7 separate regions of the Homo sapiens genome follow, and regions 2, 3, 4, 5, 6 and 7 are each reported to be linked to region 1. Evidence: microRNA targets listed by miRTarBase, many of them from high-throughput screens and not tested one by one. Region 1 holds a microRNA gene; each other region holds the end of a gene's coding sequence.
What was found. Region 1 holds the annotated microRNA hsa-miR-4537 (UGAGCCGAGCUGAGCUUAGCUG, at 2,971-2,992, opposite strand). A microRNA usually pairs through its seed, bases 2 to 8, with sites in the 3' UTR of a target mRNA and lowers its output. Matches are read on the target gene's strand: a 7mer-m8 pairs with bases 2 to 8, a 7mer-A1 pairs with bases 2 to 7 and ends in A, and an 8mer does both.

Region 1 (4,075 bases):
CTCTGAGGCCTGACTGCCCCTGGCTCCCTGCTCAGAATGGCTGAGGGCTCAGGTTTGGGTGGACCAGGCCTGCTTTCCCCCGAGGCATCAGCACGTAGGTGCTGCACACACTCAGCTCCCAGCACATGCAGCTGGAGGGCCCAGGTTGCATACCTGAATGTGAAGCCTGGAGCCACACACCCCGCAGGCAGCCAATAGAGTCCCTCCAGCCCAGCTTCTGCTGCCCCCAGCTCAGTCACACTCCAGCTACCCTGAAGTCTCCCCAGGCAGACAACCCAGGCCTGGGAGTGAGTATAGGGAGGGTGAGTGTGATGGGGAACGCAGTGTAGACTCAGCTGAGGCTATCCATCTATGTCCAACAAGATCATGAAGATTGGCCCAGTGCCATGTCCTCCAGTTCATCCCAGCCCAGGCCAGCTCAATCCAGTTCATCCCAGCCCAGGCCAGCTCAATCCAGCCCAGCCCACCCCACCCCAGCTCAGCAAAGCCAAGCTCAGCTCAGCCCAACTCAGATGAGCTCAGACCAGCTCAGCCCAGCCTAGCTGAGCTCAGACCACCTAAGACCATCTCAGCTCAGCCCAGCCCAGCTAAGCCCAGTATAGCCCAGCCCAGCTAAGCCCAGTATAGCCCAGCCCAGCTAAGCCCAGTATAGCCCAGCCCAGCTAAGCCCAGTTTAGCCCAGCCCAGCTAAGCCCAGTATAGCCCAGCCCAGCTAAGCATAGTTCAGCACAGCCCAGCTCAGCTCAGCACAGTTCAACCCAGCTCAGCCCAGCTCAGTGCAGCACAGCCCAGCTTAGCCCAGCCCAGCCCAGCTCAATCCAGCCTGGCTCAGCCCAGCCCAGCCCAGTTTGGCTCAACCCAGCTTGGCTCAGCCCAGGTCAGCCTGGCTCAACTCAGCCCAGCCCAGCCCAGCTCTGCTCAACCCAGCTCTGCTCAACTCAGCCCGGCTCAGCCCAGCTCAGCCCAGTTCAGCTCAGCCCTGCTCAGCACAGCACAGCAGAGCTCAGCTCAGCCCAGCTCAGCTCAGTTCAGCTCAGCCCTGTTCAGCACAGCACAGCAGAGCCCAGCCCAGCCCAGCCCAGCTCATCCCAGCTCAGCCCAGCCCAGCCTAGCTTAGCTCAACCCAGCTCAGCACAGTTCAGCTCAGCCCTGCTCAGCACAGCACAGCAGAGCCCAGCTCAGCCCAGCTCAGCTCAGTTCAGCTCAGCCCTGTTCAGCACAGCACAGCAGAGCCCAGCCCAGCCCAGCTCAACCTAGCCTGGCTCAGCCCAGCCCAGCCCAGCCCGGATCGGCTCAACCCAGCTTAGCTCAGCCCAGGTCAGCCCAGCTTAACTCAGCCCAGGTCAGCCCAGCTTAACTCAGCCCAGCCCAGCCCAGCTCAGCCCCCAGCTCTGCTCAACCCAGCCCAGCTCAGCTCAGCTCCGCTCAGCCCAGTTCAGCCCAGCTCAGCCCAGCCCAGCCTAGCTTGGCTCAACACAGCTCAGCTCAGCCAGCCCAGACCAGCTCAGCTCAGCCCAGTCCAGCTCAGCTCAGCCCAACCCAGTCCGGCTCAGCCCAGCCCAACCCAGCCCAGCCCAACCCAGCTCGGCTTAACCCAGCTCGGCTCAGCCCAGATCAGTCTGGCTCAACTCAGCCCAGCCCAGCTCAACCCAGCCCAGTTCAGCCCAGCTCATCCAAGCTCAGCTCAGCCCAGCCCAGTTCAGCCCAGCCCAGTTCAGCTCAGCTCAGCCCAGCCCAGTTCAGCCCAGCCCAGTTCAGCTCAGCTCAGCTGAGCCCAGCCCAGCCCAGTCCGGCTCAGCTCAGCCCCGCCCCACTCAGCCCAGCTCAGCTCAGCCCAGCTCAGCCCAGCTCAGCTTAGCCCAGCTCAGTTCAGCCAGGCACAATCTGGCTCAGCCCAGCCCAGCCCAGCTCAGCCCAGCCCAGCCTAGCTCAGCACAGCCCAGTTCAGCTCAGCTCAGCTTAACTCAGCTCAGCTCAGCTCAGCCCAGCCCAGCCCAGGTCAGCTCAGCCCAGCCCAGCCCAGCCCAGATCATCCCAGCTCAGCTCAGCTCAGCTCGGCTTAGCCCAGCTCAACCTGGCCCAGCCTGGTCCAGGTCAGCCCAGCCTGGACCACCCAGCCCAGCTCAGCTCAGCCCAGCTCATCCTGGTTCAGCTCAGCTCAACCCGGCTCAGCCCAGGTCTGCTCAACCCAGCCCAAATCAGCTCAGCCCAGCCCAGGTCATCCCAGCTCAGCCCAGCACAGCCTACTTCAGCTCAGCTCAGCTCAGCCTAGGTCAGCTCAGTTGAGGTCAGCTCAACTCAGCCCAATCCAGCCTGGCTCAGCCCAGCTCACCCTAGCTCAGCTTAGCTCAGCCCAACTCAACCCAGCCCAGCCTTGCCCAACCCAGCTCAGCTCAGCCCAGCCCAGGTTAGCCCAGCCCAGCCTCGGCTTAGCTCTGCTCAGCTCGGCCCTGCTCGCCTCAGCCCGTTCAGCCCAGTTCAGCTCAGCTCAGCTCAGCCCAGCTCAGCCCAGCCCTGGTTAGCTCAGCCCAGCTAAGCTCAGCTCGGCTCGGCTCTGCTGAGCTTGGCCCAGCTTGGCTTAGCCTGATACAACCTGCTCAGCCCAGTTCAGCTCGGCTCAGCCCAGCCCAGCCCAGCGTAGCTCAGCTCAGCTGAGCCCAGCCCAGGTTAGCTCAGCCCCAGTCCAGGTCAGCTCAACTCAGCCCAAACCAGCCTGGCTCGGCCCAGCTCACCCTAGTTCAGCTTAGCTCAGCCCAGCCCAGCCCTGCCCAACCCAGCTCAGCTCAGCCCAGCCCAGGTTAGCCCAGCCCAGCCTCGGCTTAGCTCTGCTCAGCTCGGCCCAGCCCAGGTTAGCCCAGCCCAGCCTCGGCTTAGCTCTGCTCAGCTCGGCCCTGCTCGCCTCAGCCCGTTCAGCCCAGTTCAGCTCAGCTCAGCTCAGCCCAGCTCAGCCCAGCCCTGGTTAGCTCAGCCCAGCTAAGCTCAGCTCGGCTCAGCTCTGCTGAGCTCGGCCCAGCTTGGCTCAGCCCGACACAGCCTGCTCAGCCCAGTTCAGCTCGGCTCAGCCCAGCCCAGCCCAGCGTAGCTCAGCTCAGCTGAGCCCAGCCCAGGTTAGCTCAGCCCCAGCCCAGGTTAGCTCAGCCCAGCTCAGCTCTGCCCAGGTTAGCTCAGCCCCAGTCCAGGTTAGCTCAGCCCAGCTCAGCCCTGCCCAGGTTAGCTCAGCCCAGCTAAGCTCAACTTGGCTCAGCTCAGCCTAGCTTGGCTCAGCCCAGCACAGCACGCTCAACCCGGTTCAGCTTGGCTCAGCCCAGCCCAGCCCAGCCTAGCTCAGCTCAGCCCCGCTCAGCCCAGCCTAGCTCAGCTCAGCCCCGCTCAGCCCCGCTCAGCCCAGCCCAGCCCAGCCTAGCTCAGCCCAGCTCAGCCCAGCCTAGCCCAGCTCAGCCCAGCCCAGCTCAGCGCAGCCCAGCCCAGCTCAGCGCAGCCCAGCTCAGCTCAGCTCAGCCTAGCCTTGCTCAGCCCAGCTCAGCTCAGCCCAGCTCAGCCTAGCCTTGCTCAGCCCAGCTCAGCCCAGCTCAGCCCAGCTCAGCCCAGCCCAGCCTAGCTCAGCTCAGCCCCGCTCAGACCCGCTCAGCCCAGCCCAGCCCAGCCCAGCTCAGCCCAGCCCAGCTCAGCTCAGCCCAGCCCTGCCCAGCTCAGCCCAGCTCAGCCCAGCTTAGTGCAGCCAAGCCCAGCTCAGCTCAGCTCACCTGGTGCAACTTAGCCCAGCTCAGCTCAGCTCAGCTCAACCCAGTTCAACTCAGCCCAGTTCAGCTCAGCTCAGCCCAGTTCAGCCTTGTTTAGTCTAGGTCAGCTTAGGTCAGTTTTGCCCATCTGAGTCCATTTCTGAAAGCTGGATGGAGTTGTCATGGCCAGAAATGGTCAGCCCACCAGACCTGCTTGTCTCAGCTAAAGCCATCTCATTGCCGGGTTCCTGCACAGCCAGGCTGGCTTCCATCTTTTGTCTCCCTCTACTTGATACCCCAGTTCCCTGCAGTCCTGCCCCAGCGCCACCTGGGTTTTGGTTCCAAAGCATTACCAA
Region 2 (4,000 bases), not on the chromosome of region 1:
CATCAACCCACCAGCAGGCAAACACCACTTATAACTGGAAGAAGTGATCTAGGAATCCATCCTCCTGCTTCATCTTGGACCCAACCACAATGCTGAGAAGAGGAAATGAGGTGGCTTCAGGAGCGAAGAAGCTGGGCTGGGCCATGTGATCTTGCGCAAGTCACTTCGCTCTGGCGGCAGTTCCCTTCTCTGTAAAATGAGGGCCTGGATAAATTCATTTCGACAGTCCCTCCTAAGCCAGGTATGCAGCTCTGGGGTGAGGAGGTGATAATGTGTCCAGAACTGGTGGGTTCTTGGTCTCACTGACTTCAAGAATGAAGCCGCGGACCCTCGCGGTGAGTCTTACAGCTCTTCAGGTGGCGCATCTGGAGTTTGTTCTTTCTGATGTTCCGACGTGTTCAGAGTTTCTTCCTTCTGGTGGGTTCGTGGTCTCGCTGGCTCAGGAGTGAAGCTGCAGACCTTCGCGGTGAGTGTTACAGCCCTTAAGGCACCGCGTCTGGAGTCGTTCGTTCCTCCCCGTGGGCTCATGGGCTCGCTGGCTCCAGGAGTGAAGCTGCAGACCTTCACGGTGAGTGTTACAGCTCTTAAAGCAGCACATCTGGAGTCATTCATTCCTCCCGGTGGGGTCGTGGGCTCGCTGGCTTCAGGAGTGAAGCTGCAGATCTTCGCACTAAGCGTTACAGCTAATAAAAGCAGCGTGGACCCAAAGAGCAAAAGAACAAAGCTCCCACGGTGTCAAAGGGGACCAGAACGGGTTGCCACTGCTAGCTGGGGCAGCCTGCTTTTATTCTCTTATCTGGCCCCACCCACATCCTGCTGATTGGTAGAGCCCAGTGGTCTGTTTTGACAGGGTGCTGATTGGTGCGTTTACAATCCCTGAGCTAGACACAAAGGTTCTCCACCTCCCCACCAGATTAGCTAGATACAGTGTGGACACAAAGGTTCTCCAAGGCCCCACCAGAGTAGCTAGATACAGAGTGTCGATTGGTGCATTCACAAACCCTGAGCTAGACACAGGGTGCTGATTGGTGTATTTACAAACCTTGAGGTAGATACAGAGTGCCGATTGGTGTATTTACAATCCCTGAGCTAGACATAAAGGTTCTCCAAGGCCCCACCAGAGCAGCTAGATACAGAGTGTGGATTGGTGCATTCACAAACCCTGAGCTAGACACAGGGTGCTGATTGGTGTATTTACAAACCTTGAGCTAGATACAGAGTGCCGATTGGTGTATTTACAATCCCTGAACTAGACATAAAGGTTTTCCACCTCCCCACCAGACTCAGGAGCCCAGCTGGCTTCACCCAGTGGATCCTGCACTGGGGCTGCAGGTGGAGCTGCCTGCCAGTCCGGCGCCGTGAGCCCGCACTCCTCAGCCCTTGGGTGGTGGATGGGACTGGGCGCTGTGGAGCAGGGGGTGGCGCTCGTCGGGGAGGCTCAGGCCGCACAGGAGCCCATGGAGCGGGTGGGAGGCTCAGGCATGGCAGGCTGCAGGTCCCCAGCCCTGCCCCGCAGGAAGGCAGCTAAGGCCCGGTGAGAAATCGAGCGCAGCGCCGGTGGGCTGGCACTGCTGGGGGACCCAGTACACCCTCCGCAGCCGCTGGCCCGGGTGCTAAGTCCCTCATTGCCCGGGGCTGGCAGGGCCGGCCGGCTGCTCCGAGTGCGGGACCCGCCAAGCCCACGCTCACCCGAAAGTTCAGCTGGCCCGCAAGCGCCGCGCACAGCCCCAGTTCCCGCTCGTGCCTCTCCCTCCACACCTCCCTTCAAGCTGAGGGAGCCGGCTCTGGCCTTGGCCAGCCCAGAAAGGGGCTCCCACAGTGCAGCGGTGGGATGAAGGGCTCCTCAAGTGCCGCCAAAGTGGGAGCCCAGGCAGAGGAGGTGCCGAGAGCGAGCGAGGGCTGTGAGGACTGCCAGCACGCTGTCATCTCTCAATAAGAGAGGCCATGGGGCATGGGCTCATCGCAGAGCAAAGTCAAGGAGCTGGAACAGTCTCAGAGGGAAAGTGAAAGGGGCAAAGCATTTTCCCATCGATCCTTTTTCCAAAGCCACCTGCCTGCCCCCCTGCCGGTGAGTACCATCGAGGGTCCCAGATAGGACTAAGCCTGGAGTTTCCCTGCTCATGGGCTATCACAGCTTTGAGCCCCAAAGTCCAAGAGTCCTTATCAAGGACTTCTCTGCAGTGACTCAAGGCCAGTGCAGGCGCCAGCAGAGACGGGGATTTCCTGACCGGCTGGGGGCAAGAGGCTGAGGTAGTTTCCTCCTTCTGAGAAAGAAGATATGAATCCGAGGAGTTCTATTCTTGGTTAAATGAAAATACTCCCTTCTCCTTCTACCTGAGCTTTACCTGACGGCTTGCAAGGGCAGAGGCTCTGGCCCTCAGGAGGCCCCAATCAGTACTTGGGGCTAGGGCACAGAGGGAGAAGCTGACCCATTGGACCGAGGTGTTTTCATGCTTCAGAGCAGCTTCTGGTCTGCAAAGTCTTCTCAGCTAACACAGGTGAAGCACGCCCCACAGAGCAGGCAAACATTAAGCATTTCACAAGTATTGCCTTATGGAAGCTTTCCGACAACCCCAGAGGTCAGGTCAGGAGAAGGAGCCCCATTTTGCAGACGAGAAACCTGAGGCCCCAGAGAGGCGGAACACCTTGCCCAAAGTCCCACAGCAGATACAGGGACAGGAGCATAGGAAGCCACAAGTGTGGGGACGGGGGCCAGTCTTCACTGGGTCGTAGTCACTGAAAACTGAGGATGAGGGGGCTGGGCCAAGTGAAATGGACTATTCAGTGAAGATGCCAAGAGCAGAGAGGTGGGGCCGGGGCCTGGCTAAGAAGCATCCACATACAGTCAGAGGTGCTGAAAGAAAACAGGTCGAAGCCCTGGGTTGTGGAGAGGCGGGCCAGCTCCACAAGCCTCTCCCTCAGTGTCCTCATCTTCACGCCTGAATGCCGAGTGAATTAAATGAGATAAGATATCCACAAGGCCCTTAGCACAAGGCCTGGCACATAGCAAACACTTAAGAAACATCGGCTGGACGCAGTGGCTCACGCCTGTAATCCAAGCACTTTGGGAAACTGAGGCAAGAGGATCACCTGAGGTCGCAAGTTCGATACCAGCCTGGCCAACATGGTGAAACCCTGTGTCTCTACCAAAAATACAAAAATTAGCCGGGTGTGGTGGTGGGCAGCTGTAATCCCAGCTACTCCGGAGGCTGAGGCACGAGAATCTCTTGAACCCAGGAGGCGGAAGTTGCAGTGAGCCGAGATCGTGCCACTGCACTCCACCCTGGGTGACAGCGCAAGACTGTCTCAAAAAAATAAAAGAAAGAAACATCAGCTACCATTGTTTTTATTGTTACTGAGGCTGTCAGTGCCGCCTGGAAGCACTAACACTTTTTCCCATTTCCTGCCTCAGCCCATTTCACAGGTGAGGAAATCTGAGGCTCAGTGAGGGACTTCATTCCCTTCATCTGGTAAATTCCATTTACAGGGGTGGGGCTGGGTGCTCTATCGGTGCCTGGCTTCCTCTCCCAGGGGTGCAGTAGGGGAGAGTCCATTCCCCTGTACCTCATTTAGCCCCAGGATTGCCCTGCCCAAAAGATGACACTCCTGCCCCCAGTGTCCTGGATGGGAGGCCTCCCAGCCTTCCCAAGCAATGGCTGTAATCCTGTGGGTACAGAGTCTGGCTGGGGATCCTGCTGCTCTGCTGGGAGGAGGAGTCTGCCTTCATGGGAGACTCGGTCCCTGCCCCATCGGTACCGGGTGCCTGGAGTCCACCTGCCCCTCACGGAGAGATTTCTGGCCTCTTGTCCTTGAACTCTATTCTGTCCTGCTCCTGGCTCTCCAGCGGCTCCAGGTGGCTGTGCTTGTCCTGGACCATCTTTCCCGGAGTCTTTAGAAATCTAGAATTCAGGCCCCAACTGCAAATCAGCTCCTGCCCCAGCTGCAGGGGGATTCCAGCCCACCCAACCCCAGTTCTGCTTCCCCTTTCACCACATCCCCT
Region 3 (4,075 bases), not on the chromosome of region 1:
TCATTACCACCCCCAAAGTCTCTACCTGTTTCACTGATTTCAGTATCTTTAATGCTAACATATCTGGGACAATAAAAGCATTTGACATATAACTGGCATATACTTTTTTCAAGTTTTAGATATACTGACATATCCTCATATTAATTTTCAAATTAGAATACATGTTGAAATAATATGGAAGGGCTGGGTGCAGTGGTTCACACCTGTAATCCCAGCACTTTGGAAGGCTGAGGCAGGGGAATTGCTTTGGGAGGCCGAGGCGGGCAGATCACTTGAGGTCAGGAGTTCGAGAACAGCCTGGCCAACATAAGATGAAACCCTGTCTCTACTAAAAATATAGAATTTAGCTGGGTGTGGTGGTGAGTGCCTGTAATCCCAGCTACTTGGGAGGCTGAGGCAGGAGACTAGCTTGAACCCAGGAGGCAGAGGTTGCAGTGAGCCAATCACACTACTGCACTCCAGCCTGGGCGACAGAGTGAGTCTCCATCACAAAAAATAAAAGAAAAAATAATATGGAAGAAAGAAAATGTACAGGGAAGTACTTTTCCTTCTGAATCTTGTAACTTGCCAAATGTAGCTATTACAGGCTAAACTGTGGCCTCTCAAAAAGATAACACTGAAGTTCCTAACCTCCAGTACCTCAGAACGTGACTTTACTTGGAAATAGCGTCCTAGCAAATGTAATGAGTTCACAGGAGGTCATGCTGGAGAAGGTGGGCCTCTCATCCAATATGACTGGTATGGCCAGACAGGGAGAAGGCCATGCGAGAATGGAGGATTGGAGAGATGCATCTACAAGCCAAGGAACATCAAACATGGCCAGCAAACCACCAGAAACTAGAAGAGGACTCCCCTACAGGTTTTTGAGGGAGCATGTCCCAGCTGACACCCTGCTTCCAGACTTCTAGGCTGCAGGTCTGTGAGACAACACACTTCAGTTGTTTTGAGCCACTCAGTTTGTAGTACATTGTCATGGCAGTCCTAGGAAACTAATATAGTGGCCTGGACTTTGAATTATTGCGAATAATGGGGGAAGGAGAAACAGTGAGTCACCTGAGCATCGTGACCTACGGGTTTTCAATGACTTTCCAGTTTATTTTCTGACAAGTGAAAATATTTTCAAGAACATGCACAGTGAACACAGGAATGCTAGGAAGGCAAACATAAAAGGGCACACACACACACGGCAGGTGACTGAAACTTTAATGCACCTAGGGATTGACCACAACATTTACAAATCAGTGTTACTGCATTGGTTTTTCAAAGATTAGCTACATTTATAAACTTTATTTTAAAAGTTTCACAAAGTTAAATTTCCTTAACACTTCAACAGGAATCTAACTCTTTACAGTCTATCAAAATGGTAATATTTTACCTTTTTTTTTTTTTAAAGCACTGGTGCTCTTCTTAAGTGAAATGTTAACACAGGGCTCAATACATAAAAGAGAAAGTGAAGTTGTTCCATTTGGGGGGTCCCATAAGGGGCCTCATGTTTCCCTAGGTGTTACCCCTTCAGACACAGCACAGCCTACAAAGCCATGGAATTAAAATATTAACAATGAATGCATAAAGATTTCACTGACAAATAAAAACCAGGGAGTGCATTCAGTGACCACAACTTTCTAAGCTTCTGCTTTTCCACATGCTTTTCTTTGGTTTTATCACTTTAGAAAACTCTTTGAACATTAATTGTCTGAATGGCAGCTATATTAGTCAGAAGCTGTAATGCTACACCTGGGAATTTATCTACATGATAGATGCTGCTGAATAAAATCCAACAAGAACGATTTTGTTTAAAAAAAAACTTTGTTAAGGCAGTCTATTGTTCATACTAACAGAAATAAAACATTTATGAATAAAGTCCAAAGCCAAGATAATTCTTAGAAAGATGAAGCATCCCTGCTGGGCACAGTGGCTCACACCTGAATCCCAGCACTTCAGAAGGCCGAGGCTGGTAGATCATCTGAGGTCAGGAGCTTGAGACCAACCTGGCCAACATAGTGAAATCCTGTCTCTACTAAAAATACAAAAAATTAGCTGGGCATGGTGGTGGGTGCCTGTAATCCCAGCTACTTGGGAGGCAGAGGCAGGAGAATCGCTTGAACCCAGGAGGCAGAGGCTGCAGTGAGCCAAGATCATACCACTGTACTCCAGCCTGGGCAACAAGAGCGAAACTCCATCTCAAAAAAAAAAAAAAAGGGAGTTTCCAAGGAAATGCTACATTGTGGGACTGTAGCATGTATGTCCAAAGGGAATAGAAAAGCAATACCAGCTGGGCGCGGTGACTCACGCCTGTAATCCCAACACTTTGGGAGGCTGAGGCGGGTGGATCATGAGGTCAGGAGATCGAGATCATCCTGGCTAACACGGTGAAACCCCATCTCTACTAAAAATACAAAAAAATTAGCTGGGCGTGGTGGCAGGTGCCTGTAGTCCCAGCTACTCGGGAGGCTGAGGCAGGAAAATGACGTGAACTTGGGAGGCGGAGCTTGCAGTGAGCCGAGATCGCACCACTGCACTCCAGTCTGGGCAACAGAGTAAGACTCTGTCTCACAAAAAAAAAAAAAAAAAAGCAATACCATTCATACAATTCAATGTGTCCAGGGCAGGCTGGACTATGGGGAGATGGAGAGATGTACAGTCACACTGATGAAAGACAGGGAGGCCATGTGGAACCCCAGGGGCCACAGAGCCACAGTGAAGCACCAGGCTAAGGCCATGAGTTAACACCACAAACCAGAAAGGCACCAGACACTTGGGCTTTTGGTTAAGTAGGTTGGGCTTGCTCATTAAGGACCTTTTCTTGAGACTCATTCTTTATAATTTATTCATTTCACAAACACTTCAGTAGACTTCACAAACACTAATATAGTTCCTACCATATTAGTAACTCCTTTAATCCTAACAACTCTATGAGGAAGGAACTATTATTAGCCCCATTTTACAGAAGAGGAAACAGGCACAGAGAGATTAAGCAATTTGCCCAAGATCAGGATGTCTGAAAATGTTGATCTGGGATTCAAACACCTTTCAAGGGAATAAATGACACCTTTGAAAGATGTCACCCTTTTTCCCTTAGAAAAATCCTTTAGAAATCCCCTAGGAATTTCTCTAGGAAGAGAAATTTGTCCCAGAAAAATCCTAGGAACCTGCCTGAGTAAAAAAGGAAAAAGTAGCACCAGAATTGATGGTCCACTTGCCCATCACACTGCCAGGATACGATCTCTAAAATGATGACACATTTAAATGAGATAGATGAATATGAAATTGGTCACAGATGAAAGATGAACACAGGATTTTTTCCATTCTTAGTAAAGGCCCTTAGAACATTTGAATTCGTTTAAAAATGTCTGAGTAAAATCTTTAATGTTGCATACTGGTTAAACCAATTGGAAGCTGATTTGGGAAGCGCTTGCTTCTCTACCACAGAGGCTAGCATTAAAAAGGCAGTAAATAAATAGTAAACTTGCTATTTTTTAAAAAAAGTAGTTTCCCAGCCTGACCAACATGGTGAAACCTCGTCTCTACTAAAAATACAAAAATTAGCGGGGTGTGGCAGCGCACGCCTGTAATCCCAGCTACTGGGGAGGCTAATTGCTTGAACAGGAGAATTGCTTGAACCCGGGAGGTGGAGGTTGCAGTGAGCCGAGATTGTGCCACTGCATTCCAGCCTGGGTAACAGAGCGAGACTTCATCTCAAAAAAATAAAATAAAATAAAAAAATAAAGTGGTTTCAAATAAGCGTTAAGAATAACCTTGTACATCCCAATTCATTACTTTATCATATTCTTGAATTCTTTGCTTTATGTGAGAAAGTTTATTCTTTAGGTAATCACAGCGTTCTTTTTTTTCCAGAAATGTAGGATCCTGTAAAAGAAATATAAGTATTATTTTGGCTCCTGGCTTCCTCAGTGAAAAACACAGAAACATACATTGTCACCCAGGAAATGATCATACATAGCAAAAGTCTCTACAGCAGATTCTGAACTCAGGGTAACAGTTAAGCTCTCTACATATTTTTTAAATGTACTTTTTTTTTTAGAGCAGTTTTAGGTTCACAGCAAAATCAAGCAGA
Region 4 (4,075 bases), not on the chromosome of region 1:
GGCCTGCTGCTTTATTTATTTATTTATTTATTTATTTATTGAGAACATGAGAGTGCCTTTTCATTTTAAAAATGTTTGGAAATATGCACAACTTTGATACAGCTTTGGGGTGCTCCAGACACCCATGGCCACTTCATGTAAACCACTGAGAATTTCTTTTTTTTTTTTTTTTTTGAAATGGAGTCTTGCTCTGTCACCCAAGCTGGAGTGCAGTGGCACAGTATTGGCTCACTGCAACCTCCGCCTCCTGAGTTCACGGGATTCTTCTGCCTCAGCCTCCCAAGTATCTGGGATTACAGGCGCGCACCACCATGCCCAGCTAATTTTTTGTATTTTTAGTAGAGTCAGCGTTTCACCATGATGGCCAAGCTGGTTTCAAACTCCTGACCTCAAGTGATCCACCCGCCTCGGCCTCCCAAAGTGCTAGGATTACAGGCGTGAGCCACCACGCCCGGCCACCACTGACAATTTTTAGAGTACTTTGAGAGACTATACAATATCATGATCAAATTTTGTAATTAAACCTAATGAGGACAACAGGCACTTCTCAAATAAGAGATGTGTCCATTACGGGGCTCCCCTACTCTTAAGGTACTCACAAGGAGGCAGATAAACAGTTTCTTTTTTTTTTTCCTTTGAGATGGAGTTTTGCTTTTGTTGCCCAGGCTGGAGTGCAATGGAGCGATCTCAGCTCACTGCAACCTCCACCTCCCGGGTTCAAGCGATTCTCCTGCCTTAGCCTCCTGAGTAGGTGGGGTTACAGGCATGCACCACCACGCCCAGCTAATTTTTTTTTTTTTTTTTTTTTAAGAGACAGGGTTTCACCTTGTTGGTCAGGTTGGTCTTGAACTCCTGACCTCAGATGATCCGCCCGCCTCTGCCTCCCAAAGTGCTGGGATTACAGTCTTGAGCCACTGTGCCTGGCCAGATAAACAGTTTCTTTATTCATCCTCCTCCTCTTCATCTTCCTCTTCCACCTTTTTCCAGGCAACTTTAGCAGGACCCTTTGCATCATCAAACCAACCTTTCTACTTATAGTCAGGAACATCCTTCTTATACTTTTCCTTCAGCTTTGCTACCTTAGTGATGTCATTTAAGTTATTTCACATCTCACCCAGAAAACCTAGCTTCTTAATAGAATAGGAATAGTGCCTATTTCTTGGGATTGTCATGAGGGTTACATAATGCTGGTATAAGATGCTTTAGCATAGTGCCTGGTACCTAATAAGTCCCCAGTAAGCATTAGCTACTAAAAGGATAATTTTATTTACTTATTTGAGGTGGAGTCTTGCTCTAGATCCCAGGCTGTAGTACAGTGGTGCAATCTCGGCTCATTATAACCAACGTCTGCCGGGTTCAAGCAATTCTGCCTCAGCCTCTCGAGTAGCTGGGATTGCAGGTGTGTGCCACCACACCCAGCTAATTCTTTGTATTTTTTAGTAGAGATGGGGTTTCACCATGTTGGCCAGGCTGGTCTTGAACTCCTGACCTCAAGATCCACCTGTCTCAGCCTCCCAAAATGCTGGGCTAAAAGGGTTTTGTTTTTTTGTTTTTTTTTTTTGAGACATCTCCTCACTCTGTTACCCAGGCTGGAGTGCAGTGGCACGATCTCGGCTCACCGTAACCTCTGCCTCCTGAGTTCAAGCGATTCTCCTGCCTCAGCCTCCCGAGTAGCTGGGACCACAGGCACGTGCCGCCATGCCCAGCTAATTTTTGTATTTTTAGTAGATACAGGGTCTCACCATGTTGGCGCTTCTCTCTGCTTTTTAAAACCAACCAAGAAGCACTGATGAGCTTATCTATGATAGTCCCTCTGGCTGCTGATCACCCCACCCTGCTGTCCTGTCAAACTGCTCCTGACTCCACTCCTTCCTGGACTAGGAGAAAGGCCACAGTTACTCTGTAAAGATCACATGTAACATGTGTTCCAGCAGCTGAAAAGAGCACCAATACTTATATCTGGGTTTACACCCCAGTGTTAGAAAGCTTTATTTGGGCCAGGCACGGCGGGTCATGCTTGTAATCCCAGCACTTTGGGAGGTTGAGGCGGGCAGATCACCTGAGGTCAGGAGTTCAAGACCAGCCTGGCCAACATGGTGAAACCCTGTATCTACTAAAAATACAAAGATTATCCTGGCATAGTGGCGCACCCCTGTAGTCCCAGCTACTGGAGAGGCTGAGGCAGGAGAATCGCTTGAACCCAGGAGGCGGAGGTTGCATTGAGTTGAGATCGCTCCATTGCACTCCAGCGTGGGCAACAACACAGAAATTCTGTCTCAAAAAAAAAAAAAAAGCTTTATTTGGTGTTCTGACTTTAATAACAGCAGCCTTTTTTTCAATTGCAGTCTTGCTTGGGAACCACAGGATAGACAAAAGAGGAGCAACTTGGTTGACTAGGCTGTGGGGCTTTGACCCCACTTATTTAATCCCCTCAGTGGCAGCTCCAATAAATCCTGACCAGATCCAGAGATTGGGGACCACTTTACATTTCTAAATTAATGTTTTACAATAATCCTCGTAGTTATGACCTTTCATAGAACAGGGCTGAGGTTTGTAACATGCTGGAGTTCAACCAGGATCTGTGACTCAAAGCACACTCCTTTTACTACTAGTAAGTCAGCCTCCTAAGCTTGTTTAACCAGAGGTTAAATAATGGCCACAGAAAGCATTGTGGCATATGTTAAGTGCTAGATGCCCCTCCAATCTCGCTCCAAGGACAGGAGTCCTGAGTGTCCACTATAGGCATCCATTACTTCAAGACTTCCCAGGATAGTTCAGATTTCAAGAATGTCCCACGGTTATCCCTGGAAGTACACTCCAACCTGACACCACATGACCTGTTTTGAAAATGTGGTTGGCCGGGCGCAGTGGCTCACGCCTCTAATCCCAGCACTTTGGGAGGCTGAGACGGGTGAACTGCCTGAGGTCAGGAGTTCGAGATCAGCCTGGCCACATGGTGAAACCCGCCTCTACTAAAACTACTAATATCAGCCGGGCGTGGTTGCGGACGCCTGTAATCCCAGCTACATGGGAGGCTGAGTAAGGAGAACAGCTTGAACCCAGGAGGCAGAGGTTGCAGTGAGCCAAGATTGCGCCACTGCACTCCTGCCTGGGTGACAAGAGCAAGACTCCATCTCAAAAAAAAGAAAAAATGTGGCCGCGGCAGGGCGAGGTGGTTCACGCCTGTAATCCCAGCCCTTTGGGAGGCCGAGGCGGGCGGATCACCTGGGTCTGGAGTTCGAGACCAGTCTAGCCAACATGGTGAACCCTGTCTCAACTAAAAACACAAAAGTTAGCTGGGCTTGGTGGCGCGCACTTGTGATCCCGGCTACTCGGGAAGCTGAGGCAGGAGAATTGCTGGAACCCAGGGGCGGAGGTTGCAGTGAGCCGAGATCGTGCCACTGCACTCCAGCCTGGGTGACATTGACTCCGTCTCAAAAAAAAAAAAAAAAAAAAAATGTGGTCAGATACCTATCGGGATCAGCCTCTTCTGGTGGGGTGGGACAGGCAGCAGCTCCAGGCCGCGCCCCCAGCACCGACCACGCGTCTCTAAGCATTGGTAGGTGTCGACTGCAGGGCTCATTCTGGGTGGAGGAACATGATTTTATTGGTTCTTTCAGTTCACCACATCCGACTCGCGTCTCGGCCCTGGCCCGCCTTGCGGACCTTAAAGCAGTCAGTCCAGGGTTTGGGGGAAACGTGCTCACCCGACGGCAGCTCACAGGACCCCGGAGAGTCCTGGCATGGTATCTCGGTCCGGACTCTCCGCTGGGCCCACGAAGGAGAAAGGCTGCCTCGGATTCCTGCGCCCAAGCCAAGGTCCGGCGCCCACGGAGGCAAGTCCGGTCTCACGGTGACCTCCCGCCGGCGCCGCCTTCGCCGCCAACCATCCAGTTCTTCCTCCAGGCCACGTTCTCCTGCGTGGTCGCTGCCTCCTGCAGAGTGGCCAGCAATAGCTGCTGGGTCCTGGCCGCCTCCTCCCTGCTCCTTGGGTCCTGCAGTGGCATCTCCTGAGGGCAGGAAGGGGAGTTCGCAGGAGCTCCAGTCCGGGGCTCTCCACCCGCCCACCCTTCCT
Region 5 (4,075 bases), not on the chromosome of region 1:
TGTTATAGCTATTAAATGGAAACCCCAGAATTCATCCTGAATGTCTCTGAATGTGAAAAGTCACATGCGTTAATTTAATTCAGTATAAAATTTCCATGTTCTCCCACAAGGAGGATTTCAGCAGTGTCTTCCCAGCATGAAACCATGTCTTATCACTCCACCAGATTCAGAATTGGTACTAATTCTGACAGAAGCTGAAACTAAAGCCTATGTTTTCTTTAGTCAACATAAGGCCTTTTTTCAGAGATGGTGTGAATTAATAGTTTAAACCACCAAAATAAAAGAATAGACAAGTATTTTCTTAACATATCCATTTCCATTGCTAGAGCTGCGGTGATCAGCAGAAGCATCTGCCTGGCTGTCAATATCAAGGTGGATCCAGGCTGTTGGAACTGGTGGATCCAGGGGTTGGAACGGAGGAATACTAAAAATGAGACTTGGAACTTGGAAGGCCTACACCACGAGGGCCAATTCTGCCATAAGCCCTATTGCCCAGATATGTTACATAAAACATCCAGATATTACAGTGAAAGTCAGTGTGTGGCCAGACACAGTGGCTCACAATTGTAATCCAGCACTTTGGGAGGCCGAGGCTGGTGGATCACTTGAGGTCAGGAGTTTGAGACCAGCCTGACCAACATGGTGAAAACCCCATCTCTACTAAAAATACAAAAATTAGCTGGGCATAGTGACACAGGCCTGTAATCTCAGTTGCTTGGGAGGCTGAGGCAAGAGAATTGCTTGAACCTGGGAGGCGGAGGTTGCAGTGAGCCGAGATCGTGACACTGCACTCTAACCTGGGTGACAGAGTGAGACTCCATCTCAAAAAAAAAAAAAAAAAGTCAGGTGAGAAGAAGTAGCACATAGTGAAAATGAATATAATAATTTTACAGCTGGTCGGGCTCAGTGGCTCATGCCTGTAATCCCAGCACTTTGGGAGGCTGAGACAGGAGGACTGCTTGAGCCCAGGAGTTTGAAACCAGCCTGGGCAACATAGTGAGACCCTGTCTTTAAAAAATAAAATAAAATAATTTTACAGCTTTTGGTTCTCCTGTATTATACAGCATAACTAGGAGAAAAAAAAACTATGAAATTATTTTCCCAAGACCAGTTTTACTCATCTTTATCACATTTGTTTGATGTGGGTTATCCAGGAGCCACCTACATCAAGGTGGATCCAGGCTGTGGTCTTGCATTGGGTAACAAAGCCCTTCCCAGAGGGAGGAGTCACACCATTGGGTCAAGAGTCATGAATGGGTATTTTTACATATTTATTAAAACAAGTTTCCTGAGAAGTTTGACTAGGCTATGTTGTTGTTAACCTAGTTTGCTTAAAATGTACGAAAATGCAATCAAACTTACATATCTTTTAAATATTCGAAAGTCAGATTTTGTTCTGATTGCCCTATCCAATTAGGGCAAATTAGTGAGGGTTTTTTTGGTTTTTGTTTTGTTTTTTTAACAATAGTCTGAAACATAAAATTAAGTTTGGGTTTAAAAACAATTCTTGAAACTGTCATAAACATATGATATCTATTGATTAAACAGTAATAAAAAGACACAAGGTACAAGAATTGAGGCTTGGCTGTTCTGGCTGTATACTAACTTCATATACCCTGACAGAATAAACTATCTTTTTAAAAAGTGCTTTGTACACTGCACAATTATAGCTTTACCAAATAAAAACTCAATGACATGTCGCTGAAATTTGCTTCTTCTAGAATTTGAAATTATTTAAAATACTGCATGAGAATATTTTTATCATATTATATAATATGACTTCATCAACATGAAGTTCCAGGACCCCAGATGCCTCTCTGAGAAGTTCATTATTTGATAGGGTTGGATCAAATGTAAAGGCCCAGGTGTTCAAAGATCTTAGATACCTAAAGAGAGAAAGGGGCAAATGGAGGCTCTTCTGAGAGTCAAAATGTTGATGAGAAACAAACTGAAAGTAGCACACATAGGCAGAAAAATAGACAAGTTATGATTCAGAAAACAATTGTATGCAATTTTGGCATAAATATCTGAGAGTCACTGTGGGCCATGAGTTGAAAAGGAACATGCAAGAGAGCAAGGAAAACACAAAGCCTCATTCAGATGTGCTGGTGAGAATATGACAGAAAATCTGTTGAAGTTGTGTACCATGAAGTCTGTCTTTTGTCAAAGTTCTATGCAGTCCCAGGATAGCGTGATAGCAGTGGTTAAACACAACCAGCTAGTTATAGCTTTCATTGTATGGAAAGACCTCTCTGGTCTGGAACTCTGCCTTTGAAATTATCCACGTAGTTCAGAAGGCAAATACTTGTTAAAGGGATCCCAAAAGGTAGGAGACAAGTAGTTTTTGTTATGCATTAGGGCAGACTTTCAAGCACAAGACACAAAATTGAGCAGCAAATGTTTGGGTAGTCCCATCTCCCTTCGGTTTATATGTGGGTAGTAAAATAAATAAAATTTTCCTTCTTTGTCTCTTTCTTGAAATAAAATATCAGGTATCCAAGGAGAGCTGAGGATTCTCAATTTGCTAGATTGCTTTAAAGGGGTCAGATTTAGAAAATTAAGGAATAAATGAAGAACAATTTTACTGGAGTAGGTGTGGTCAATAGGCCCTTTTCCATTTTGTGCCATTGCTTTTAGCACAAGGATGTCAAAAATATCACATAGAATGTCATCTCTGATGGACTGACAGAGACCTCCTGTTGTGCTGTGTTAGGACATGAGGCTTATCCCAGCTTGGCGGGAGAGAATGCTAAGCATGATGAGTGAGATCTGCCACAGGCACGGATATTTCCTGCTCCTCTTCTGTTTGTTTCAAACCACCTTCAGGATCTCTGAAACATAGAAGGCTGACAGATGACTCCCACCTGCACATACTTCCTACCTACATGTCACATCCAAGGGAGGTATGGTGAAACAAGTGTGAGCTTTGCAGAAATGCTGACAAGCAAGGGAATTTCAGCTGAGGAGAACATTAGTTCTTTCACTGAAGATTCCTAGTTTCTCTGAGAAGTTCTTAAGGGTGACCAGACCTGGCCATGCTAGGGTCTACAAGTTACCAAACGCCACCTCATCAGGACTGTGGACCCCTCTCACTGTGTCTTCTTGGCAGGCAGAGCTTACTGACCCCCTGGGATGGTGTATTCATTAAAATACTTGCTGTGTTTGGTGTCTTTTCCATGACATAACACTCCTCGAGAAAAGTTCCTGCTGAATGTAGTTTACCTGTCCCACGACTTGAATAATCAGAGGAAATTATCCAAAGCTGGTTACTGACCCAAAAGGAAACCATCGATAAAACAGCTTCCTGATTTAGGCCCTAAGGAATGAAGCAGAAAGGTGACGAACATTTATCATGACCAGAGTGAGTTCAGTGAGCTAGAAGTTGGCTGAGAGGAGGCAACACATGTTGATCAGAAGTGAGCACATCACCCGCCTCCTTCTCCACCCTCAGAGGCAGCGATGGATGGCAGCCAGGCCTTTTCCTAGTACTTCTCAATTGCACATTCTTCCAAGTGCAAGTGATGCCATCATTAGGAAGAGTGGGCGTTGGAAGAAACAGCAAAAGGTTCTTGTGTCTATGTTGATTTGAAATTAATTAAATTTGTATCCTCTTCATCCTCTGTTGGCAGCCTCAGCAGACTCCCTCAGGGGCTGCTTCTCTTGGAAAACATGAGCGCCATTCAGGTTTAGGATTCACTGTCACTGTAAAAAAAAAAAAAAAAAAAAAAAAAAACAAAAAAAACACACACACACACACAAAACAGTAATATATTTCTTTCTTTTTTTTTTTTTTTTGAGACGGAGTCTGGCTCCGTCGCCCAGGCTGGAGCGCAGTGGCACAATCTCGGCCCACTGCAAGCTCCACCTCCCAGGTTCAGGTCATTCTCCTGCCTCAGCCTCCTGAGTAGCTGGGACTACAGGCACCCACCACCAAGCCTGGCTAATTTTTTGTATTTTTTTTTTTTTTAGTAGAGGCGGGGTTTCACCATGTTAGCCAGGATGGTCTCGATCTCCTGACCTTGTGATCTGCCCACCTTGACCTCCCAAAGTGCTGGAATTACAGGTGTGAGCCACT
Region 6 (4,075 bases), not on the chromosome of region 1:
GTTTCTTGAAGGAATGCCCATAATTCCAGTGCCTGCACATACTTGAATGAATGAATGAATGAATGAATGAATGAATGAATGAATCCATCACTAGACAGGGCTTTCCTCTGAAAGCTCCAGCCAGCTTTATTAAAGTCTTCTGTTACGGCAGTTGAGGGGAGAGTTTCTCTCCAGCAAGGCCAAGATCTCCAGTGTCTCCCACTTCCAACCTGAAGCCACCTACCCAGAGGAAAGAAGTCTCTGGCTCAGGGACAATCCACCACAGAGCAGTCAGAGGTGAAGACAATTGTCCCAGCATCACTTACTATAAGAGGGGAAGGGTCAGCCAGCTGTGGCCATTGGAGCAGGCTTTCCCTGGGTATTGGAACAGCCAGCCAGGGGCACTGAGTGAGGCCTATCTGGGCACTGATGCCATGAAGCCAACTGATGAGTCAACTTCCTCATCGCACCCTGGAGAAGCAGCTCCTGTGGATCACAGGCTGAGAAGAGACCCAGGACCTGGCCACCAGTCCTGACAGAGGCTTTTCCAAGTCAGCTGCCTGGTCTTAAAGAATGACAGTGTAAATTAGCCTGCCTGTCTTGTGCAGAAGAGAAACTGAATCTCAGGGAGATCAGCTTTGGACTCATCAGCCACCTTAACAGTTATGGCCACCCAGATAAAAGACTACATTTCCCAGCCTCCATTGCAGCTAAGAATGGCCATGTGGCCAGGCTGTAGCCAATTAGACATGAGTGAAAGTGATGTCTATAATTTTAAGGTTGTGCTCATACATGGCAGAGGTGTAGCATCCTTTCCTGTTTTTCTCCTTCCTGCTGCCTAGCAAGCCATCTAGGACCACATAGCCATGGGGAACACCTTAGAAAGATGGAGCAACAACATAGAAAGAGGCAGGACCCTGAAATCTGGGCACATGACCTGGGAGCCACCATACCAGACCTGAACAGCTTATGCCTTTTAAATGAGAGTGAAGGAAAATAAACTATCTGACCACCTCACACCCATTAGGATGGCTAACTTTCAAAAAGAGAAAGAAAATAACAAGAATTGGTGAGGTTGTGGAAAAATTGAAACCCTTGGGCCGTGTTGGTGGGAATGTACAATGGTTCACCTACTGTGGAAAATAGTATGGCAGTTCCTCAAATGATTAAAAATAAAACTGCCACATGATCCAGCAATTCAATTTCTGGGGATATGCCCAAAAATGGAAAGAAGGGTCTCAAGAGACAGTTGTACACCCATGTTCACAGCAGCATTACTGACAGTAGCTAAGACATGGAAGCAACCCAAGTGTTCATCTAGGGATGAACGGATAAGCAAAATATGGTATGTCCATACAGTAGAATATTACTCAGCCTTAAGAAGAAAGGAGATTTTGACATATGCTGCAACATGGATGAACCTTGAGGACATCACGCTAAGTGAGATGAGCCAGTCATAAAAGGACAAATACTGTATGGTTCCACTTACATGAGGTACTAGAGTAGTCAAATTCCTAGAGACAGAAAGCAGAATGGTGGTTTCCAGGCACTGGAAGTGGGTGGGTAGGTGGGGAGTTTTTGTTTAATGGGTACAGAGTTTCAGTTTTACAAAATGAGCAAAATTACAGAGCTGGATGGTGGCACACGTTGTGAATGTATTTAATGAATGGTACACCTTAAAAAGGTTAAGATGGTAAATTTTACATTCTGTTATTTTACCCCAGTAAAATTTTTTACAAAAGAAAATCACCTATCTTGATTAAGCCACTATTAGTTAAGGCATTTGCTAGAGCTGTTGAACTGTCTACATCCTCCTGACACATATAAAATAGCCCAGGACTGTGTTTCCTCAGGAAGCCCTTCTTCCAGTTGGCTAGGACCCCTGGGGCTGCCTAATCACCAGACACTCCTTTGTCCCAGGACAACAAAGCTGTGACCTGCAGCCACCCCAGGGGCAGGTTTTCTTGGAATAAGAGCTGGGGAAGCTGCCTGGAGCAACCTGCTAGATTGCCACGAAGGGAAGGGGAGGAAGCACAGCAGATTCTCTGCCAGTGTAGACACCAGTAAACCTGTACCAGTTATTCAAATAGTCAAATACTTCCAGGTCTGTGGGTCAGCAGCCACTGCCCTGAGGCACCCCACCCCTTGAAGTTTCCCCCTCCCTGGCTATCCTAGACCCAGACCCACCAACTAAATGGGTAACATTTAGCACAAGAAGGGATTCCAGGATGTCATTCTTACCTCCAGCTACTCTGATTCAGCAAGCCATACCACTTGTTAAAGACTTTGAACATTATCCCTGGCTATAAGTTACCCGGTCTCAACTGACTGAAGGAAAAAAAAAACGGCTGGGTGAGGTGGCTCAAGTCTGCAATCCCAGCACTTTGGGAGGCTGAGGCAGGAGGAATGCCCAGAGCTCAGGAGTTCGCGACCAGCCTGGACAACACGGTGAAACCCCGTCTCTACTAAAATCCAAAAAAAAAAAAAAATAGCCAGGTGTGGCAGTGTGCACCTGTAGTCCCAGTCACTCGGGAGGCTGAGGCGGGAGAACTGCTTGAACCTGGGAGGCAGAGGTTGCAGTGAGCCGAGATGGCGCCATTGCACTCCAGCCTGGGTGACAGAGCGAGACTCTGTCTCAAAACAAAACAAAACAAAAACCTAAACTAAACTCAGTGTTGAGGGTGACAAGAGTTCTGAAAGGCAGACTTGTCATTTAATTCCCACCTCCACCTCTCTCTCGCTGTCCTCCCCAAAGCTAGGAACACCCAGACCCGGCTGAGGCCCTCTCGTACCCATTCAGAATGTCCTGCAATCACACACAGAGATTATTGCACTCTTTTATTTACAGAAAACACAGATAAAGCATTTCAATTTCAATGTTCATTTAGCAAACTGATCCACTCTTTTTTTTTCTTTTTGGCACAAAGAAATATCACAGATGGACCCCGAGATCAATCAGAAGCTCATAAGATTCATCAGTCATCACTGGTCCAGGGGCGGCCACGAGACTCAGACAGACAGACAGCATCACCACAGACTGGAAACAGAAACAGGTCCACGTTCACCTCACAGTAAAAACCTGCCTCACCGACAGGCAAGGGCGGGCAGGAGGGGGCAGTTTCGCTGCTCTAAGGGGGGAAATGGGCGTCAGGGGCAGGAGGCAGGGATGGGGAAAGGATGGACACCATTCATAAATTAGAGACAAGTGGTCCTCTTGTTTGTATCCTCTTACCTTGAATAGTAAGACAGTGCAAAAACTAGATACCCGACCACTCACCCATTCAAAAGCTTGAGAAGTCGCCTCGCGAGTGCCCGTGTGCGTGTGTGGATGTGTAAATGTGGTGCTTGTAAACATTGTCACCGTCCGCACAGAGACCCAACATCCATGTGTCTGAATGGGGGGGGGGGGGGCGGGACCCTACTTCAGGCGCCCTCTGCCCCAGTGATTCCCGTCCAAGACGTAGTGCAAATTTCAGAGACAAAAAAGGGGCAGAAGGGAGTGGGGTGAGCTGGGGGCAGGAAGGACACGAAGATGAGGTGGGAGAGGGAGGGGTTAATAAGGCAACAGTTAAAAACGGTCCATTTTATCAAAACCGACACCTTGCGCCTCCCGCCCCCACCCGCACCGCCCGGGTCACGAGAAGGGGCGGAAGTCCCGCTCCTCCACCAGGCTGACCGAGGGGTTCTTCAGCTCCTCCTCCGAGGCGGCGATCTTGTAGCCCAGCTGGGCCAGCACCTGCTGGCAGGCGTTCTGGGCAAAGGCCACGATGTCGTAGGAGAGGCGGAAGCGCCACTTCTCGGCCGTGGCCGCCGAGTTTCGCACGGTGCCGTATTTGTGCTTGCCCAGGGTGGGGTCGCCCCGCGTGTTGTTCTGGATCCAGCGGGCCACGTGGCTGTCCAGCGGGATGCCCAGGAACCCGTAGATCTCCTCGGTCTTCTTCATAGGGTTCCGAGCCAGGTCCTCGTAGCGCACCAACATGTACTTGCCCTTGAGCCACGGGGGCCGCATGAGGCCGGTGGACACGGAGTTGGAGAAGTCCTCGCACACCGTGGTCAGCTGCGTCACGTCCAGGTTGTAGGGTTTCCTCCCGGTGCC
Region 7 (4,075 bases), not on the chromosome of region 1:
AGTTCAGTCTAAACTGGTGGGTGGGTCTTGCTGCTGTCCCGCTAACAAGACACTTCCCCCTACCTCTGAAAGTCTGTAAGGTCGAGATCTTTCACAAGCTGTTGACCACAGTAACTCATATGCCAGGTACAATAAGAACATGTCAGAAGTTCCTAATTCAGTACAACAGGAGACAGCTGTTGATCTTGTTGCAGAACTGCACTGATGAAGGTAAGCAACACTAGCCCAGTGCCCACTGAGCAGTGACTGACCTTAAGCTGAAGAAATCACTCCCAAAGATATCTTTCATCCCTGTTATCTGCCTTCTCCAGGAGAGCGGGAAGCTATCCAGAAGTCTGTGACAAGAAGCTGCTTATTAGAGGAGGAGGAGGAGTCAGGTGAGGAGGCTGCAGAAGCAATGGAGTGAACCTCTGCTCCCCACACAGCTGGCTACACTGCTCAGGCTTCAGGCCCACTTGTTGAACAGAACAATCTGGGTAGCAACAGCATCTTCCACAGTTTTCCAAACTGGATAGCTGCCAACCAGCAGACATTACCCACTTGAAATGGAGTACTCAGTTAAACTGAAGTTGCCTTTACCTAGCATTCCCTGGTGAAGTGTTGCAGGTTGTGAACTCTGTAGACATCTTTATTGCTTGGCTAAGAGTAGATTTAATAAATGTATCTGGTTTCCGTGGCATTTAGCATACTTATATTACAGAAAGGGCTTATGGAGTCCATGCTTGGCCAAGTCTCTGTTCTCTCTCTATCCCTAGCCTTGGTGGGAAGACTGACTCCCTATGTGGTACTAGTTAAACTTTTTTTTTTGAGACAGTCTCAGTCTATCACCCAGGCTGGAGTGTAGTGGCCCAGTATCGGCTCACTGCAACCTCCGCCTCCTGGGTTCAAGCAATTCTCCCACCTCAGCCTTCCAAGTAACTGGGATTACAGACGTGCACCACCACGTCTGGCTAATTTTTGTATTTTTAGTAGAGACGGGGTTTTGCCATGTTGGCCAGGCTGCTGTTGAACTCCTGGCCTCAAGTGATCGGCCTACCTTGGCCTCCAAAAGTGCTGGGATTAAAGGGTGAGCCACTGTGCCTGGCCTAAATTTTCAATACTTAGCCTTCTACCTGAAGCTTTGTACCCCCGGCCCCATGATGGGCCCTAAGCAAGCCAAGTCATTTGGAATAGAAATATTAGTTGAGACACAGCAACTGAACTGGCAGAGATCTACAGCCCATCTCAGTACTGAACCACAGGGTCTTACAGATACCAGATTCCTTGCCAATAGTTAATCAGGTAACTTAAAAAATACAACTTTGGGCCGGGCGCAGTGGCTCACACCTGTAATCCCAGCACTTTGGGAGGCTGAGGCGGCCAGATCACAAGGTCAGGAGATCAAGACCATCCCGTCTAACGCAGTGAAACCCTGTCTCCACTAAAAATACAAAAAATTAGCTGGGCATGGTGGTGGGTGCCTGTAATCTCAGGTACTCAGGAGGCTGAGGCAGGAGAATGGCGTGAACCCGGGAGGCAGAGCTTGCAGTGAGCTGAGATCCCACTACTGTACTGCAGCCTGGGCTAGAGCGAGACTCTGTCTCAAACAAAAAATGCAACCTTTGCAGTTGGGGGGGGCGCGGGTGCTGGCCTCATCTGACATCATTACTGCATGGTCATGTAGCAGCTGTCCACTTAAGGAACTTAAGGTAGTTTTTGTAGTTCCGCTCTTATTGCGCCTGAATACAAGGCGCCCTGAAGACAAGTCAGACTGCCATACTCACAGGAAGTAGGAATGGCGGGAGACTTGTGATCCAGGTTTGATCTGCTACCTACTGACATTTCTGGGATCTGTTTTCTCCATAATACAATGGATGAGACTGAAAGTACCATACACATTTAACAGAAACACTGGTGATTCTGGCTTCAACATGCCCCCTCATCTGGAGGCCAGAACACCCTCATCCATCCAGGAAATTTCCTGATAGGATTTCTTTTAAAATGGCAGGTTAAAGCTAAGCCCAGCTCTAGAACCATTTAAACCTGACACCAGAAAAGACAGCCTACAATATCATAGTAGCTGTCACGTTAACCTATTCAAGAAATAACTTGTCTAGCTTACCTGTAATGAACTTAAAAAAACAAAAAGCTCACAATGCTTGTGCAGGTGATTTATTGCAACTATTTGCCTTCGCATTCTAATGCACCTAGAGGTCACTTTATTAAGCAGCAAAAGAATTCACATCAAATTCAGCTCAAACCAAGGCATAAGAAAACTGCTCTAGATGAGAGGGAGATGGTGGCAATGCTACCGCTTCAGATGGCCCTGCTCTCCTGCAGCTGTACCAGACTCCTCCTCCTATGACTCAAGCCAGTCACTGAAAACAAGCTCGATCTTAGGGGTAGCAGGTCTCAGGGCTTCGTGAGTTACAGCTTTCCTTACCAACTCAAGCCATGCTCAAGAAGAGGCAAAACCCTCCTTTCACACATGCAAGTGCCAAGGACAGCCTACTCCATTAAGCTGGCACCACAGCCTGGCCATGTGTCAGAAAAAAAAAAACTGCAATTCAAACTGGGTGTCCTAAATCCATTTTATTCCCACCCCTGTTTCTTTAACAAGGAGAACTAAATAGGTAGTAAAGATTCAGCTGTTTTTTAAAAGACAAACTGAGAGGTGTACTGAGTCCAGGAAGCCCTGACATGATGCTACAGCAGAGCAGTGTGTGCCATTCTGGGTTGGACTGCTCTAATGCATCTCAAAGGGGACTCAATCTTACTTTGGGTTGAGAAAAATTAATTACACATGGGTCAAAAAGACTAAACTGGCAATGAACTAAAAACCTTGGCAGGAAGAGATCTCTTGTGTCAATACTTTATTTTGGTGTAAAGACAGGAAGCTGGAAAATACACTGTATTTAAAATTTTCTTGGTTCCCCCTCACATTGTGGAAACCCCCTCCCCCCAGAGCTAATCTGTTCAAACTCAAATACTTAAAAATTACAGCAGCCAAACAAAAGCATGGGGGAAAAAAAAACAAAAACAAAAACCAGATGGAGAAGGTAGCCTGGGCCAGTAGTGTCACTTGGTGTGGACGACTGAGGTGCTGAACAGGAGCTTCTGTTTCTGTTTTTTTCTTTTCTTTCCTCCTTTCTCTTCTAAAGGGAGACACAGAAAGACAGCTTAACTTAAAATGCCATCCCTTGTCCCCTGGCCAGTTTTCATTACTGAGAGTCACAGAGTGGGAGCTAAGAGTGGAGGCTCTGGAATTAGACTGCCTAGATGCCAATACCAGTCTTGGTATACACCAAGTGGGTGTCTTTGGGCAAATCACTTTTACCTCCCTGGACCTCAGTTTCCCCATCTGTAACGTGAGGTACACCCATTTAACGTGGTTGTTGGGAGAATTAGCACAGTGCTAGGCACATAGCACGCCATACATATGTGATTCTTGTCTAGTCATGAACAGAGTGCAACAGGCTTCGAGACTGACTTCTCCATCTAATTAGCCACCCTGTACCAACTCAAGATTCTAAAGGATACAGGTTGTACACCCCACTGTATCTTGGAAGAGTTCCTCAGAATTTCACTTTCAGGCGTCATCAATTTCTCTGGGGTGGCAAATAGGTCCTATCTGACATACCAAATGGAGTATTATTTAAATGACACTAGAGTGTGCTGAAGGGTTCAGAAGGGAAAGAGCCTAATTAGTGATGTCTGCCACTGAATCCAGGCGGGAATGGCAGTACATGTGTAGTATGTTTGACAACCCTGGGCACTCCAGCCTCTGCCCTTACCAGAGAGGGGATCTGAAGTAGCTGGTGTGTCCAGTTTCATGAAGGCTGCTTCAATAGCTTGGCTGAAGGAATTTTGAAAACTGGGCACAGGAACACGGTCTGAATTATCACTCTCCCCGTCGCTGTCCACAGGGGCAGGAGGAACTAAGCTGTTCTCATCTAAAAAATACCAGTGTTAAAACTATAGAAACAACTCTTTTTCTAGAAACAGCCTTTTATGGAAAGAAGCCAAACTCCCCCTTCACCAGTGGACCATCCTCACCTTTCTTTGGAGCAGTTTTGGGCCACACATCTGCTTTTGC

Region 2: miRTarBase lists ETV7 as a target of hsa-miR-4537. The part of its 3' UTR that is shown has no 7-base or 8-base seed match.
Region 3: miRTarBase lists MARVELD2 as a target of hsa-miR-4537. Seed matches in the 3' UTR shown: 8mer at 3,642-3,649 and 8mer at 2,496-2,503.
Region 4: miRTarBase lists UQCC3 as a target of hsa-miR-4537. Seed matches in the 3' UTR shown: 8mer at 3,384-3,391.
Region 5: the mRNA of TMEM154 is a reported target of hsa-miR-4537. Seed matches in the 3' UTR shown: 8mer at 768-775.
Region 6: miRTarBase lists CHST1 as a target of hsa-miR-4537. Seed matches in the 3' UTR shown: 8mer at 2,560-2,567.
Region 7: miRTarBase lists POP5 as a target of hsa-miR-4537. Seed matches in the 3' UTR shown: 8mer at 855-862.

The regions. Positions count from the first base shown.
Region 1 is chr14:105,856,562-105,860,636 of GRCh38, forward strand. It overlaps MIR4537 (microRNA 4537), which reads right to left and starts at 2,992; the gene lies at 2,923-2,992. It overlaps MIR4539 (microRNA 4539), which reads right to left and starts at 1,011; the gene lies at 952-1,011. MIR4507 (microRNA 4507) reads right to left here and starts at 1,614; the gene lies at 1,563-1,614. MIR4538 (microRNA 4538) reads right to left here and starts at 1,681; the gene lies at 1,604-1,681. It also overlaps IGH.
Region 2 is chr6:36,362,864-36,366,863 of GRCh38, forward strand. ETV7 (ETS variant transcription factor 7) reads right to left here. Exons shown (of 8, transcript NM_016135.4): 8 at 3,331-3,899. The coding sequence ends at 3,782. Among named protein-coding and RNA genes, the nearest start is that of ETV7-AS1, 22 kb to the right of the region's middle. RefSeq lists an enhancer at 2,502-2,551.
Region 3 is chr5:69,441,324-69,445,398 of GRCh38, reverse strand. It overlaps MARVELD2 (MARVEL domain containing 2), which reads right to left. Exons shown (of 7, transcript NM_001038603.3): 7 at 1,069-3,867. The coding sequence ends at 3,745. Among named protein-coding and RNA genes, the nearest start is that of MARVELD2, 28 kb to the right of the region's middle. RefSeq lists a silencer at 3,592-3,789.
Region 4 is chr11:62,671,888-62,675,962 of GRCh38, reverse strand. UQCC3 (ubiquinol-cytochrome c reductase complex assembly factor 3) reads right to left here. Exons shown (of 2, transcript NM_001085372.3): 2 at 2,277-4,010. The coding sequence ends at 3,849. It overlaps LBHD1 (LBH domain containing 1), which reads left to right and starts at 3,696. Exons shown (of 7, transcript NM_024099.5): 1 at 3,696-4,075. RefSeq lists a silencer at 3,487-3,616 and enhancers at 3,857-4,016, 3,383-4,075.
Region 5 is chr4:152,624,860-152,628,934 of GRCh38, forward strand. It overlaps TMEM154 (transmembrane protein 154), which reads right to left. Exons shown (of 7, transcript NM_152680.3): 7 at 1-3,702. The coding sequence ends at 3,687. Among named protein-coding and RNA genes, the nearest start is that of TMEM154, 53 kb to the right of the region's middle.
Region 6 is chr11:45,646,075-45,650,149 of GRCh38, forward strand. It overlaps CHST1 (carbohydrate sulfotransferase 1), which reads right to left. Exons shown (of 4, transcript NM_003654.6): 4 at 1,615-4,075. The coding sequence ends at 3,614. Among named protein-coding and RNA genes, the nearest start is that of CHST1, 18 kb to the right of the region's middle.
Region 7 is chr12:120,575,649-120,579,723 of GRCh38, reverse strand. It overlaps POP5 (POP5 ribonuclease P/MRP subunit), which reads left to right. Exons shown (of 5, transcript NM_015918.4): 4 at 127-210; 5 at 312-960. The coding sequence ends at 406. RNF10 (ring finger protein 10) reads right to left here. Exons shown (of 17, transcript NM_014868.5): 15 at 4,036-4,075; 16 at 3,774-3,932; 17 at 2,136-3,134. The coding sequence ends at 3,058. Among named protein-coding and RNA genes, the nearest start is that of POP5, 3.7 kb to the left of the region's middle.